Homo sapiens: one gene and its partner. The protein of the gene in region 1 purifies or fractionates together with the protein of each later gene. This does not show direct contact. Each region holds a gene or a part of one and is shown on either strand. Other genes may lie near its edges.

Region 1 (7,061 bases):
CCGCCCCTCACTCAGACGCCTGGGCCCTGGCTGCCTTGCTAGCCCCTGAGAAGGTGACACCCGCCGCAACCCGAGTCCTAAGCCGAACTGCTGCTGGGGGCTCTTGGCAGCGTGCTCGCGGCAGGGCCTTTCCCGGCCTTTTCCGCTCCCTTACTTGCTTGCAAAGCTGATGGCACAATCCCAGACCAACACCCCCAGAGCTCTGCACACGCAGTCAGCCACTCTCCAGATCAGATTGGAGGGGCGCAGTCCGCGATTCCACACCCAAGCCGATAAAGAAAAACCCAGCACCACCCTCCTGGCTAAGCCATTGTTCTAAAAAGCGCTGGTTTCTTGGCAGAGCTGAACCAGGCTTGGTGTGTAAACCACGCGTGCCACACCTGGGAGACGCACGCCCATGCCCGCCAAGGATTCAGAGAGCTGCAGATTTCCACAAAGAGGTGTGGAGGCGATTCCTGCTACCAATACACGAAAGTATAGTGGCAAATCGGGATGGCCCTGCTGGGGGCAATTTGGCAATATGTGGCAAAAGTTTTTCAAACATACTTCTCTGTGACGAAAAGGTCCTACAGCCTTTCCTAAACATTCACGAATAAGAAAGTCATCACTGTTTTCTATAACAGGGAAGTATTGTAAACATCCCAAAGATCCGAAAGAAAGGAGACAGTTTAAATGACTCCTGTCACACCCACGTAAGGGTTTACTGTGCAGTATTTAGGGATTAGGTGGAGCAGGCTATTCAGCATGTTTGTAGGGGCTCTCTCTGCACCAGGGGTGTCTCAGGCACTGGGGATAAGAAAGAAAACAGGTTACAGGCCGGGCGCGGTGGCTCACGCCTATAATCCTAGCAAACACTTTGGGAGGCTGAGGTGGGCGGGTCACCTGAGGTCAGAAGTTCAAAACCAGCCTGGCCAACATGGTGAAACCCTGTCTCTACTAAAAATACAAAAATTATCTGGGAGTGGTGGCAGGCACCTGTAGTCCCAGCTACTTGGGAGGCTGAGGCAGGAGAATTGCTTGAACCAAGCTGAGAGGAGGAGGTTGCAGTGGGCCGAGATTGGGCCATTGCACTCCAGCACTTTGACCGGGAGAATGGAGCCATAATCACAGAGTTCTCCTATTAGATTAGTGGTAGGAGGTAAGGCAAGGTTAGTGAGATTTGCTAGAAGTCAAGAGGCTGTCAGTGGAAGCGGTATTTGAAGGCCTCGGGTAAGTAATATAATTACTTTCAGCGAGACTCCATCTAAAAAAAGAAAAAGAAAGAAAGAAAGAAAGAAAAACAGAAAACAAGTTACAGAACAACAGATGTACCAGGCGTGTGCATGTGTGTGTGTGCGTGTGTGTGTGTGCGTGTGCGTGTGTGTGCATGTGTGTGTGTGCGTGTGTGTGCATGTGCGTGTGTGTGTGCGTGCGTGTGTGTGCATGTGCGTGTGTGTGCGCGCGTGTGCGTGTGTGTGTGGGCGTGCACGCTCTAACATGCAAGAAAGGACTAGAACGGTAGCCCCCGACACGATGAGACAACTGATGGGGGTGGAATTATTGATGATCTGTTTTCCTCTTATGCAATGTTTGACTTTTTGCAATGAGCTTGTATTTTTTAAATTTTGGTGCGTTTTAAGATAGGCACTACATGCTCATGAAACAAAATGTAAAATATAGCAAAGGGGCACAGAAAAAAGTCTGCCTCCCTCCTCCCTGCTCCATCAGCTGTCAGGTGCTGCCCCACAGAGGGGCCACTGTTACCAGTTCCTTACTCCCCTTCCTGAGATACTCAGCCCACTTGCAGACCCGGCATAACTTTTAACATCAGCAGAAATAGGGTATTTCCATTTTTTTAAAAAACCCTATATATCATATGTAATATATAATTATATTGTATATAGATATATGGTCCTGCCTACATTCCAGCGAGTGGCTTCCAATCCTTCCTCTGCCTCCCCTCCCCATAGGCTGACCCCTAATCCCAGGCTTTCTGCACAGGGAGGAGGGACCTGCTGGCATTGAGGGTGCTCTAAGCCTGGCCCTTCCATGGTCCCTCCCTATGTTCTGATAGGAGGCTGGGAAAGCCCCCTCACTGGGACCTCCTCAGTCCCATGGGCCAGGCCCCTCCTGCTGACCACAACCCAGGAGAGAAGGTCCCGCTTCTCTCCCGAGCCTTGTACGGTCAAACCAAGGCAGGCAGCCCAGGTGGGAAGAGCCTGGTGAGCGTGGGACGGGATTGGCCTTGCACCCCAGCATCGCCACTTGGAACTGTGGTCTCTGGGCTGGACGGCCTTCCCAGGACTTCCCCGAGAGACAGGTTAACAAAGGTGCCACTTCACAGAGATGAGTGGACACCATCACGTCGCAGCTGCACCCAAATGGGAGCTGCTGCAGCATGCACTGGGGGCCTCCCCAGAGCCCGTCGCCTCACACCCCACATTCCTGCACCCCGCTCCTCTCACCTGTGCCAGTGTTGACTTTGCCCCCCAGTGACACCTCCTCCCCTCCTCATTGCCTTCCATCCTCACAAAAGCTCTGTAGTGATGCCCATGAAGAAGAAACGGTTATGAGTGCATTTTACAGATGAGGAAAGGGAGACTGAGAAACGTTTAATGCTGTATCTGATCTCACAGTTAGCAGGTGGCATGTCAGGGTTTGAACCCACATGCATCTCTGTCAGCAGCTCATGCCTTTAGCACTCGGCTCTGCTGCCTTCCTTCCAGTCATGGAGTCTGACGGCCCATCAGGGCCTCTCACTCCACGGCCACCTTGGTGTCCCTGCTCCGCGGATCCCTGGGACCTCTGCCTCCTGGTTTGGGGGATGGCAGAGCTGCCAGAGGTCCAGGAGGATGCTCCAGAGATGATGGTCCCAGAGGCAGGGACCCCCTGGAGAGATGATGTAGGACTCTTGACACTTAGGGCCCCGGCTCTGAGTGCAGACTCCACCTAGACAAGAGAAAAAATAAGGAATGCAGGGAAGAGGATTACCTTTGACACAGCCTCTCCCGGTAACTGGGGCTCCTGGAACGGCAAGAGCCAAGAGGGGACGTATTTAAGGACCCTGCTTCCCGTCCATTGAGCCCTTGGAGTTCCTGCCCAGGAAGTTTGCGTGACAAGAAAAAAAAATATTCAAATGTGGGGTGTGGCGTCCTCTGGACCTCTGCTCCCTACAGCCCAGGTTTTGGGGATTAGGTCCCGGGCTGTTTGCTTTTGTTCACTTCTGAAATGCGAGAATGTTTCTGAAGGCTTGGGCAGGGCACATCTCCAATCTTCAAAAGAGCCTATGTTTGCCCTGGGCGTGGGGGCTGCTGATTGATTCAGCCTGGCATGGAGCTCTTCCAGCTTTCCAGACTTGCCGCTGCCAGATGCGGTTCTCTGAGTTCTCTGGTTACATAAGATCGGCAGGGCTCAGCCACGAACCACAGTGAGAGCATGCAGCTCCCCCGAAACGCACCCCCAGCCACCGCTGCCCCGGGCCCTTCACATCCCCCAGTGTGCACAGGGCCCCATTGAGTCAGAGATCCTAACCCTGGGGAGCCACAGGCTGGGGACTTTTGATGGGGGTCTCCAATCCATAAATCTGCTCTCTCGTTGAATAGCTGAGAAGAGGGCCAAGGGTCTGTGTGGTCACCGAAAACCAGAGATGCTTGGGAAGGAAGGAGTCTGGAAAAGCCGTTCCCACGCTGTCTGATCAATGTTCGCTGGGCTCCTGCTCTGCACCACGCTGTGGGGAGGAGGCAGGTGTGGAACAGACTCTCGGCCCCTCTCACCAGGCGCTTCCCGCCACCCTCACCCGCCTGCAGGCAGACTGCTTACCAGCATGGGGTCCCTGCTTCCCATTTCATTCGAGGAAAACACAAGGTTCCGGTCCTGGCCTACGAGTCCTGAGGATGTGCTCTGGCCCTCCTGCTTCTCTCCACCTGGAGCCCCCTTCCCCTACATCCACCCACACGGCTACGCTCCAATGTGCTGTGGAAAATAGCACAATGCTGTCGTCTTCCTCCATTATTTTTTCTCTGGAGCGTTTATATCTTGTTTGCTACCTGTCCCTTAACTCCTGACAGCTAGAATTTGATTTGTTCACTGCTGTAACCTCCATACAGCATTTATAGTAGATGCTCAATAAATATTTATTGACTGACAAAATAAACAGGAAATTTCAAAATAATGTGAACACTGTAGTAACCAGGTAGGCAGAGGATGCTAGAGGGGCTGGGGTGAGAGTCCGTGGGAGGGAACATCATCTGAGCTGAGTGAGAAGCATTTGGGCAAGGAACAGCAAGGGGGCTGGAAGAGCAGAAGCAAAGGCACAGAGGCTGGGAACGTTATGTCACGAAAAAGTGCGATGTGTCCACTGTTGCCAGCAGGAGGTGTGGAGGTGAATGACTCTCCTGGGGCGGGGGCTCACGGAGGCCTGTGGGCCAGGCTGGCTGTGGGGGTGCAGGGCGCTGAGGAGATTATCAGACAGACAAATGTCTGCTATTTTTTGTTTTAGAGAACCCCCTGGACAGGGCACAGTGTGAGAAAGGTCTAGCCCAAAGGCTGCAGCTTCCAGCAATGCAGGCAAGAAATGACGAGACCCCCAAATAAGACTAACAGAATGGGAAACATTCCAGAAACAGCAGAAAGAAGCATCTGCAGGACCTCGCACCTGTGCAGGGGCTGGACTGGGTGGTAGGTGCAAAGTGGGGTGCCTCCTGAGAGGGGAGAAGACCGAGCCTGTGCCAGCCTCTCCCCTTTTCTGGTGGCAGCAGCTGATTATCTTTGCAGGCAACCCCTTCCTACTTGGTGAGATGATCAACCAGGTGCCTTCTCCAGGCCAGCCATGGGTTGGGGTGGGCTCCCCATGAGGCCTCCCTGACTCTCCTGGGAATTTGGATCTTGAGTAGAGGGCAGAATGCAAGGCCGAAGGCCATTCGGAGCTGACTTCTTGTGGCAGCGGCCCTCCCCTGGGAGAACCATGGAAGCAACTAGCAAAAGCCAGCAACACAGCATTGAGTACACGAAGTGACCAGAACAGTGCCTGGCGGGCCGAGGGCATCCTGGAAAGGTTAGGTGGTGTGGGTGTCATCAAAAGTGGCAGCAGTAGTGGTGGAAGCGTCAGAGCAAGGAGCCTAAAAGCAGTTCAAATCTACGAAGAACAAAATCCTTGTTTGCGTGTTTGGGTTTTGGTTATAGTTTCAGTAGTGGCAAAAGTGTGGGAGTGTGGGTTGTGCTAGAAACTTGCAGATACTTGCTTTTCAGATTTTCTTTTTTCTTTTTTTTTTTTTTTTTTTGAGACAGGGTGTTGCTCTGTTGCCCAGGCTGGAGTGCAGTGGTGCCATCACGGCTCACTGCAGCTTTGAATTCCGGTGCTCAAGCGATCCTCCCACCTTGTGACTACAGGAACCCACCACCATGCCTGGCTAATTTTTAAATGTTTTGTAGAGATGGGTCTCATTATGTTGCCCAGGCTGGTCTCAAACTCCTGGGCTCAATTCATCTTCCCGCCTCAGCCTCCCAAAGTGCTGGGATTGCAAGCATGAGTTAATCTTTGCAAGTCCTAATACTCCATCCCCAATGCCTCATCCTCACCTGGGCTGTCACTCACTCTCTCTCTCCCAGGCCACTGTTCTTGCCCTCTACCTACTCTCCTTGAGTCAGGCTCAGCTGCCTTCTCCAAGTGGCTGCCAGAGAGACATGCGGACGATAAGGACCTGAGCATGTCTCTCCCCTGATTCACATCCTTGGGTGGCACCCCCTTGCTGTCAGGAAGCTTCCTCCCATGGCCTGTGAGCCCCTGCCTGGCCTGGCTCCTGGCTGCCTTGCCAGCCTCACTTCGCACCACTTCCCACCATTCTCACTGCACTCCAGTCTGCTGGCATTCCTTGACTTAACCAGGCAATTTCCTACCACAAGGCCTTTGCACATGCTGTTCTTGCTCCCTGGGACACTTTTTCTTCCACTCTGCACCAGACTAACTCTTATCCATGTTCAGATCTCAGCTTCCCTGACCTCTCTCACCTCTCAAATAAAACCTTCCTTACTTCCAGGAACCTGTCACAACCTGCGTTCATATCTTTGTTTGTGTGACTATGTCTCTCCTTATTCCCCCTTGGACTGGAATGTCCACAAAGGCAGAGATCTCAACTTTTGTTCAGCACCATATCCTGGCACAAGGGAGACCTCTGAAGATACGGAAGCAGCCCACTACACCTAACCATCCCTCTGATGGAAAAGCAATCATTTAGCAAGACGATTTTCAGCAAATTCACCCAAAGCTAGCAAAAAAAGTGTTGAATGAATGAATGAATGAATGAATAGCGAGTTTGCTTAAATTTCAAGGAACATTTAGATTAGATATAGTTGTTGGGAGGGGAAACCACTTTCTTTATACGAGTAGAAGGAGCCTGGGCAACATAGAGAGACTCATCTCTACAAAAAATAAAAAAAAGGAAGGAGGCTGGGTGCGGTGGCTCACGCCTGTAATCCCAGCACTTTGGGAGGTTGAGGCGGGCAGATCACTTGAGCTCAGGAGTTCAAGACCAGCCTGGCCAACATGGTAAAACCCCATCTCTACTAAAATACAAAAATTAGCTGGCCGTGGTGGTGCATGCCTGTAATCCCAGCTACTCGGGAGGCTGAGGCAGGAGAATCGCTTGAACCTGGGAGGTGGAGGTTGCAGTGAGCCAAGATTGCGCCACTGCACTCCAACTTGGATGAGGGCAGAGCGAGACTCCATCTCAAAAAAAAAAAAAAAAAAAAATTAGCTGGGCGTGGTGGCATGCACCCAGCTACTTGAGAGGCTGAGCGGGAGGATCACTTGAGCCCAGGAGGTCGAGGCTTCAGTGAGCTGTAATCATGCCAGTGCACTCCAGCCTGGGGGACAGAGTGACCAGGTAGACCCTGTCTCAAAAAAAAAAGAGAGAGTAGAAAGGAGAAAATTAGGCAGTGGGTCTCAGGGACCTCCCCGTTGGTTAAAAGTGTTATGACTCAGGAAGACAAATGCCACATGTTCTCCCTCATGTGTGGGAGCCAAACAAGTGGATCTCATGAAGATAGAGAATAGATCGGTGGTTACCAGGGCTGGGAAGGGTGGG
Region 2 (6,839 bases), on another chromosome or scaffold:
ATCTTTGGAGACAGAGGTAGCTGTGTTTGACTGCCCCCACCACCCAACCCAACTTCGGTTCCATCTCTGAGTCTTTTTTTGCTGTTTGATTGACTACAAAGTACCTCCTAGCTCTGAGTTCAGATCATGATTTTTTCAGTCCCTCCACTCTTTCCAAAACATTAAAATCCTCACCTTCCTTCTCCCCAGATGATCACCCTCCCCTCAACCTGCACCCAGCCTACCTCTTCCAAAGACCGCGGATTGCTCATTTCTCCTTTGGTTGTGAGTCCCGGCTCTCAGCACCCTTGTCTGATCCTTGGAGTCAAGAGAAGATAGGTTAAAGTTCTCTAAAGGGAGGCCGAGGGGCTCAGGGGACAAACTGGCTTATGTATCTGGATTTTTGAGACCAAATAGCACTCAAGTGGTGGGGATTTGGTCTGTGGACAGATCTGGGCAATAGATGATAATCCATGAAGTAGTAATATATCACCCCTAGAATGACAATTTCACGATGTCTTCCATTTCTGGATGTCTTCTTCAGAACTGCTGAGCCTACCCCACAATGTCCCCCACTCCGCCCCCAAAAACTTCCTGTGTCTCCCGTGGGTCATTCACCAGCTTCTGGTGGACTGAACTTCCCCTGAAAGCCCTGGAATGAGGAGCAGGGCAAGTGACCCATGTGTTTGCCTCTTCTACCTAGGAGATGACGGGCTGGGGAAGCCATCTCAAAGAGATGCCTTGGAGGAGTGTTTAAAAGGAGAATGTCATCGAAGTGGGGAATGCAACTTTGATATTATCTCACTGGGTCTCCAATACGAAGGGGTCAATCCACCTCCCTTGCTCTTCCTTGAGTCTGAATGTCTGTCCACATTCTCCATTCTCATCTCTGAGTCCTGTTCTCTTCTCTGGCTGCACAGACAGACTTTTGTCATACTCTTGGCATTTCCCCATCTCTTTGCCTTTTCCTACACTTTCTCCTCAGTAGGGAATGCTTTTTGCTTTTTTTTTTTTTTTTTTTGAGACAGAATCTCACTCTGTCACCCAGGCTGTCTGGGGTGCAGTGGCATGATCTCGGCTCACTGCAACCTCTGCCTCCTGGGTTCAAGTGATGATCCTGCCTCAGCCTCCCGAGTAGCTGGGACTACAGGTATGCGCCACCATGCCTGGCTAATTTTATTGTATTTTTAGTAGAGACGGGATTTCACTGTGTTAGCCAGGATGGTCTTGATCTCCTGACCTCATGATCTGCCCACCTCAGCCTCCCAAAGTGCTGGGATTATAGATGTGAGCCACTGCACCCCACCGGGAATGCTTTTTTTTTTTCTATCTAGATCCTTCTCTGACAATTTTGGTGGCATAATATCTGCTATGCCTTCCCCCATCAACCATCCATTCATCTATGTTTTTATCCATCTATCTATCCAGTCACCCATCAATTCATTCATCTATCCATCTACCATCTATCCATTAATTCATCATCTATCCATCCATTCACCCACTCACCCTTCCATCTATTCATCTGTCCATCTACTTATCTATTAATCAGTCATCCCATCCACCCATCCTTCCACCCGCACATCTATCTAGTCATCCATCAATCCAATTTAACATCCATCCTTTTATTCATCAACCCATCCACCAATTTATCTTTCCACTTACCTATCTATCCACTCATCCATCCATCCATCCACCCACTCACACATCTATTCATCCGTCTGTCTACCCATCTATTAATCAGTCATCCCATATACCCATTCATTCTTCCATCAACCCATTTATCTACCCATCCATCTATCTATCCATCCACTTATTCATCCAACCACTCATTCATTCATCCATCCATCCATCCATTCATCCATTATCTCTCTCTGTCTTCCATCCCTCCATCTATTCTATCTTCCAACTATCCCTCCATCTAGCCCTCCTTCTATCCATTCCTTCATCCATCATCTCTATCTTCCATCTATCCATCCACCTATTTACTTATCCATCTACCCACCCACCCATCCATCCATCCATCCATCAATCCATCCACCCACCCACCCACCTACCCAGCAAATATTTTCTGGGTATCTATTATGTGTTATGCACTTAGAATCCATTAAGTAAGACAGACATGCTCCCTGACTTTCTGTCCTTCTGTAGCTCTAGTCTGTGACAGAAATGAATATTAAATCTCTCTCTCTCTCTCTCTCTCTCACACACACACACTCACACACACACACAGCAAGTGCTGTGACGAAAGAGGAGCCAAAGATTGTGAGGGAGGAAGTGGAAGGAGCATAGCCCTGGAGCCAGAACCGAATCCTGCCTCAGTCCCTTCCCAGCTGTGTGACCTTCGGCATCTCACTCTCCTCTCTGAGACTCGATTTTCCCATCCGCAAAGGACCTGGGGAGAGCTCTAGGTGCTTAACAGCAATGGTGACCCAGGTAGGTTTTAGGATCCCTCTTGACCTCCTGGAACTTTCCTCTTCCTTCTCTGGACTCTCACAGCTCTGCTTGCTCCTACTTGAATTACAGCAGTGTTTTTGATTCTTACTCTCATGGCTGAACTGGCAGCTCAGTTTTCAGGACTGAAAGCCTGACTTCATTATCTCTGTCTCCATCATGGCCAACAGTGTGGCAGGGAGCACAGAGGTGGTGTTGGAGAGAATTTGCTGAGTAAACAAATAAGAAAAAAATGAACAGATGAAAAGAAAGAGGGGATGGATGGAAATTTCTTCCATTCTGCCAAAACTGGCCAGAGCATTAATTCATGAAGGGAGAGGGAGCGTATGTGTGTATGTGCGTGTGTGTGTGTGTGTGTGTGTGTGTGTGTGTGTGAGAGAGAGAGAGAGAGAGAGAGAGAGAGGCTAATATCCACCAAATCACTTACCAACTCTAGAGGCAGCTGTTCCTCAAGGCCAAGTTCAATCTCACTACTCTCCTAGTTGCCAATACTGAGCTGGGCACCGAGGAGGAGTCAGGCCCACGTACTGATCTTGGAGAAGGGGCTGACAGTGTGGAATCTCCCGGGGTTTCTCCTGAGAAGCCTGGTCTATGAATCGGGTGGCACAATCACCTGGCCCTTTATTGTCGGTGAGTTTTCTGTCACTCAAGAAACCTCATGACACACCCTTGGCACACAGCTGTGGTGTGGAAATGGAGCCAACGCCAATGGGATGAGTGATCGCAAGGCTGAGGGGACTCCCTCTGGCAAAGGTGGCCTAGGCAGAGAGTCTAAATGAGTCAGATGTCTGTGCCAGCCCAGCCACAACCTCTCCCAACCCCCATCCCATAGCCAGCCCATCTGGTTATTACCATCATCATTATGCCTAGTTTATTCATCTCACCTTCCACTGTGTAGATAACACCGACTTCACTTAGTTATTATCTCATCGAGTCTTCAAGAGTCTAGACAGATCAGTATTTTTGCTCCCATTTTGCAGATGGAGAAACTGAGGCTCATAGAGGTGAAATGACTGCCCAAGGTCAGCAATTGGCACAGTTGGCATTCAACCCTATAAGGGGTGAGGTGTGGTGGGTCACGTCTGTAGTCCCAGCGCTTTGGGAGGCCAAGGCAGGAGGATCGCTTGAGGTGAGGAGTTTGAGACCAGCCGGGGCATAGTGAGACCCTGTCACTAAAATAATAATAATAATAAAAATGATGGCATATACCTATAGTCCTAGCTACTCAGGAGGCTGAGGTAGGAGGCTGGCTTGAGCCTAGGAGTTTGAGGCTGCAGCGAGCTAAGATTGTGCCTCTGCACTCCAGCCTGGGTGACAGAGCAAGACTCTGTCTTAAATATAAAAACAAACAAACAACCCCTAAAATGTTCCAGCCCAGTTGCCTTAACTGATGCATCATGATGATTCCTCTCTTCCTCCTCCTCTTATTATTTTTCAGCCATTTTGTTTCATTTTATTTCTTATGTTAATAGTGAAACCAAAGGCGAACCTGATTAAGCCCTCCAGACTTAATCTGCCTTGCGTTTAATTGCTTACTTACTTTTAATTGCTTACTTATAGTTGATCTTAAAAGCGCCACTAGCAAGTCACGTAGCCAAATAATGCATAACTAAACTCCCACTGGCTTCCTTACAGATAACATTTTTGTCTGTGGGACACTATAGTAATGGGTGCTTAAAGTTGTTTTTCAGGAACTAGGTAGGAGGCAGCTCTTGTTTAGTTTAAGCCAGTGGAGATCACTGACCCTTCAACTGCACCTATGTGGGTAGCTGATATCAGAGGGCCGTAAACTCCACCTTCAGATCATGCTAAATGCTATTTTTTGCACAAATGTCCTATCTAAAGCCATGTAGCTCAACCATGCTTGCTCAGAAATTCTGATTACCTCACCTTCCCTACCTGCCAGTCACCTTTCTCCGTACTTTAGATCACCCCGTTTTCTATCCCATAAGCACCCTCAAACCCTATTTTTGGGGAGGAGAATTTGAGACCTGTTTTACCACCTCGTCGCTTAATTGCCTCATGAACGAACTCTTCCTCTTCTGCAAAATCTGTCATTACATTGATTGGCTTGCTGCACAGAGGAAGAACAAACTCGGTTCGATAGCAACAGCTTAAATGAGATATAATTTACGTATTATACAATTCACCCACCTGAAGTGTGCAATCCAGTGGGTTTCAATATATTCACAGTGATGCAACCATTGCGTCAGTTCATTTTGGAACATTTTGTTTTTTCTTTTTTCGGAGATAAGATCTGTCACCCAGGCTGGAGTGCAGTGGAGCGATCACAGCTCACTGCAGCTTAAAACTCCTGGGCTTATTCGATCCTTCCACCTCAGCCTCCTGGGCAGCTGGGACTACAGGTGTGCACGTACATGCCTTGCTACTTTTTTCCTCAAGATTTTTTGTAGAGACAAAGTCTTGCTGTGTTGCCCAGGCTGGTCTCGAACTTCTGGCCTCAAGGGATCCTCCCCACTCGGCCTCCCAAAGTGTGAGATTACAGGCGCGGGCCACCACACCTGGCTCATTTTAGAACATTTTTATCACCCCCCAAAAGAATCCCAGTACCCTTTAGCTATCACTCCCAATCTCTCCATACATCCCAGCCTTAGGCAACCACTAGCCGAGTTTCTGTCTCTGCAGGTTTCCCTGTTCTGGATATTTCACAGAAATAGAATCATACACTATGTGATTTTTGTGTCTGGCTTCTTTCATTCAGCATGATGTTTTCAAGAACAGTATTGCAGGGATGTTGGTTTGTTGTCTCCTGTTTCATTTTGTTTTGGTTTTTAGAGAGCCAAGTGTTAGATGTCTTTCAGCAAACCATTGCAGACACTCCCATTCCAATTCCTTCCCCTAAGATCCAGCCTTCTTAGCTGACCAGATCCTATAAATCAATGAGATTTCAAGGAGGAGGAAGATAGCATCCACATGGTAGCATATATTAGAACTTCATCCCTTTTTCTGACTGAATAATAGTCCATTGTACAGATATACCTCATTTTGTTTATTTATTCATCTGTGGAGGAACATTTCAGTTGTGTTAGGCTTTTGGCTATTTGAAGGATGCTGTTATACATATTTATGTACAAGTTTTATGTGGATTTTTTTTTGAGACAGGGTCTCACTAAGTTGCCCAGGCTGGAGTGCAATGGTATGATCTCAACTCACTACAACCTCTGCTTCCCGGACTCAAGCAATTCTCCAGCCGCAGCCTCCCCAGTAGCTGGGACTACAGGCGTGCACCACCATGCCAGGCTAATTTTTTGTGTGTTTTTTGTAGAAACTGGGTTTTGCCATGTTGCCCAGCTGTTGTTAAACTCCTGAGCTGAAAACGATCCACCTGCCTGGGCCTCCCAAAGTGCTGGGATTACAGGCGTGAGCCACCACGCTTAGCCTGATGCATGTTTTAATTCCATTCCTAGTAGTGCAACTTTCTAGCAATACAGAAATGTTTTTTTTAGCAAAACTGGCCTGTTCTCATCCTTCCAATTCTTCCCTTTGCTTCCAGGTAGCCCAGGCACAAGACTGAGCAATTTCCCTTCAGTGCCTATTGCCGCATTGACTTACACACATTCGCAGTGTTAGTTACATAGGTGGGCCCGTTCTACAAAATTGTCCTGTTACTTGCCTTGTTCACCGAATTATGTCTGGGTCATCTTTCCATGTTAGCACATATGGAACAAACTCAATTTTTTTGTGTTCTTTAAACAACTATTGAGAATAACCTATGTGAAGAAAAGTGCGCGACTCTTTTTTTTTCTTTCTTTTTTTTTTTTTGAGACGGAGTCTCGCTCTGTCACCCAGGCTGGAGTGCAGTGGCGTGATCTTGGCTCACTGCAACCTCTGCCTTCCGGGTTCATGCCATTCTCCTGCCTCAGCCTCGCGAGTTGCTGGGATTACAGGCACTCACTACCACACCTGGCCAATTTTTGTATTTTTAGTGGAGATGGGGTTTCACCATGTTGGTCAGGCCTGTCTCGAACTCCTGACCTCGTGATCTGTCCCTCTTGGCCTCCCAAAGTGCTGGGATTACAGGCATGAGCCACCGCACCCGGCCTAGTGCACAACTCTTAAATGTGCAGCTTGATAATTTTTTTCAAACTGAACATATCCACGTGACCGACAATTCAGTGGTGCTATTGAATCAATTCTGCAATGGCATAAAAAGTACACACTTTTCACTAAAAGAGAAACAAAACCCAGGAAAACACCAAATTAAACTGGACATAACATCCTACACTTACCCCATGCCAAAATTTTAGCTAAAGCATGCTTTTGCTGTCTTCTTCCTCCTTGAAATCTCATTGTTTGACAGGGTCTGGTCCGTTAAGAAAGTTGGATCTTAGGGGAATCAGTCAGGACTCGGAGTGTTTGCAATGATGTGTTGGAAGATGTCTAACACT

Evidence for each region. The genes of interacting proteins can lie anywhere in the genome.
Region 2: the proteins of ALDH3A1 (region 1) and CASP14 purify together in Homo sapiens (affinity purification with mass spectrometry; 2 studies listed by BioGRID and IntAct, with this or other methods). This does not show direct contact.

Annotation. Positions count from the first base shown.
Region 1 is NC_000017.11:19,745,289-19,752,349, forward strand, and holds the start of ALDH3A1 (aldehyde dehydrogenase, dimeric NADP-preferring), read right to left. Parts: upstream 3,011-7,061; 5' UTR 2,971-3,010; intron 325-2,970; exon of another isoform or gene 1-324. UniProt on the Homo sapiens protein: ALDHs play a major role in the detoxification of alcohol-derived acetaldehyde. They are involved in the metabolism of corticosteroids, biogenic amines, neurotransmitters, and lipid peroxidation.
Region 2 is NC_000019.10:15,045,664-15,052,502, reverse strand, and holds the start of CASP14 (caspase-14 precursor), read right to left. Parts: upstream 3,024-6,839; 5' UTR 2,858-3,023; intron 298-2,857; 5' UTR 252-297; coding exon 225-251; intron 1-224. UniProt on the Homo sapiens protein: Non-apoptotic caspase involved in epidermal differentiation. Is the predominant caspase in epidermal stratum corneum. Seems to play a role in keratinocyte differentiation and is required for cornification.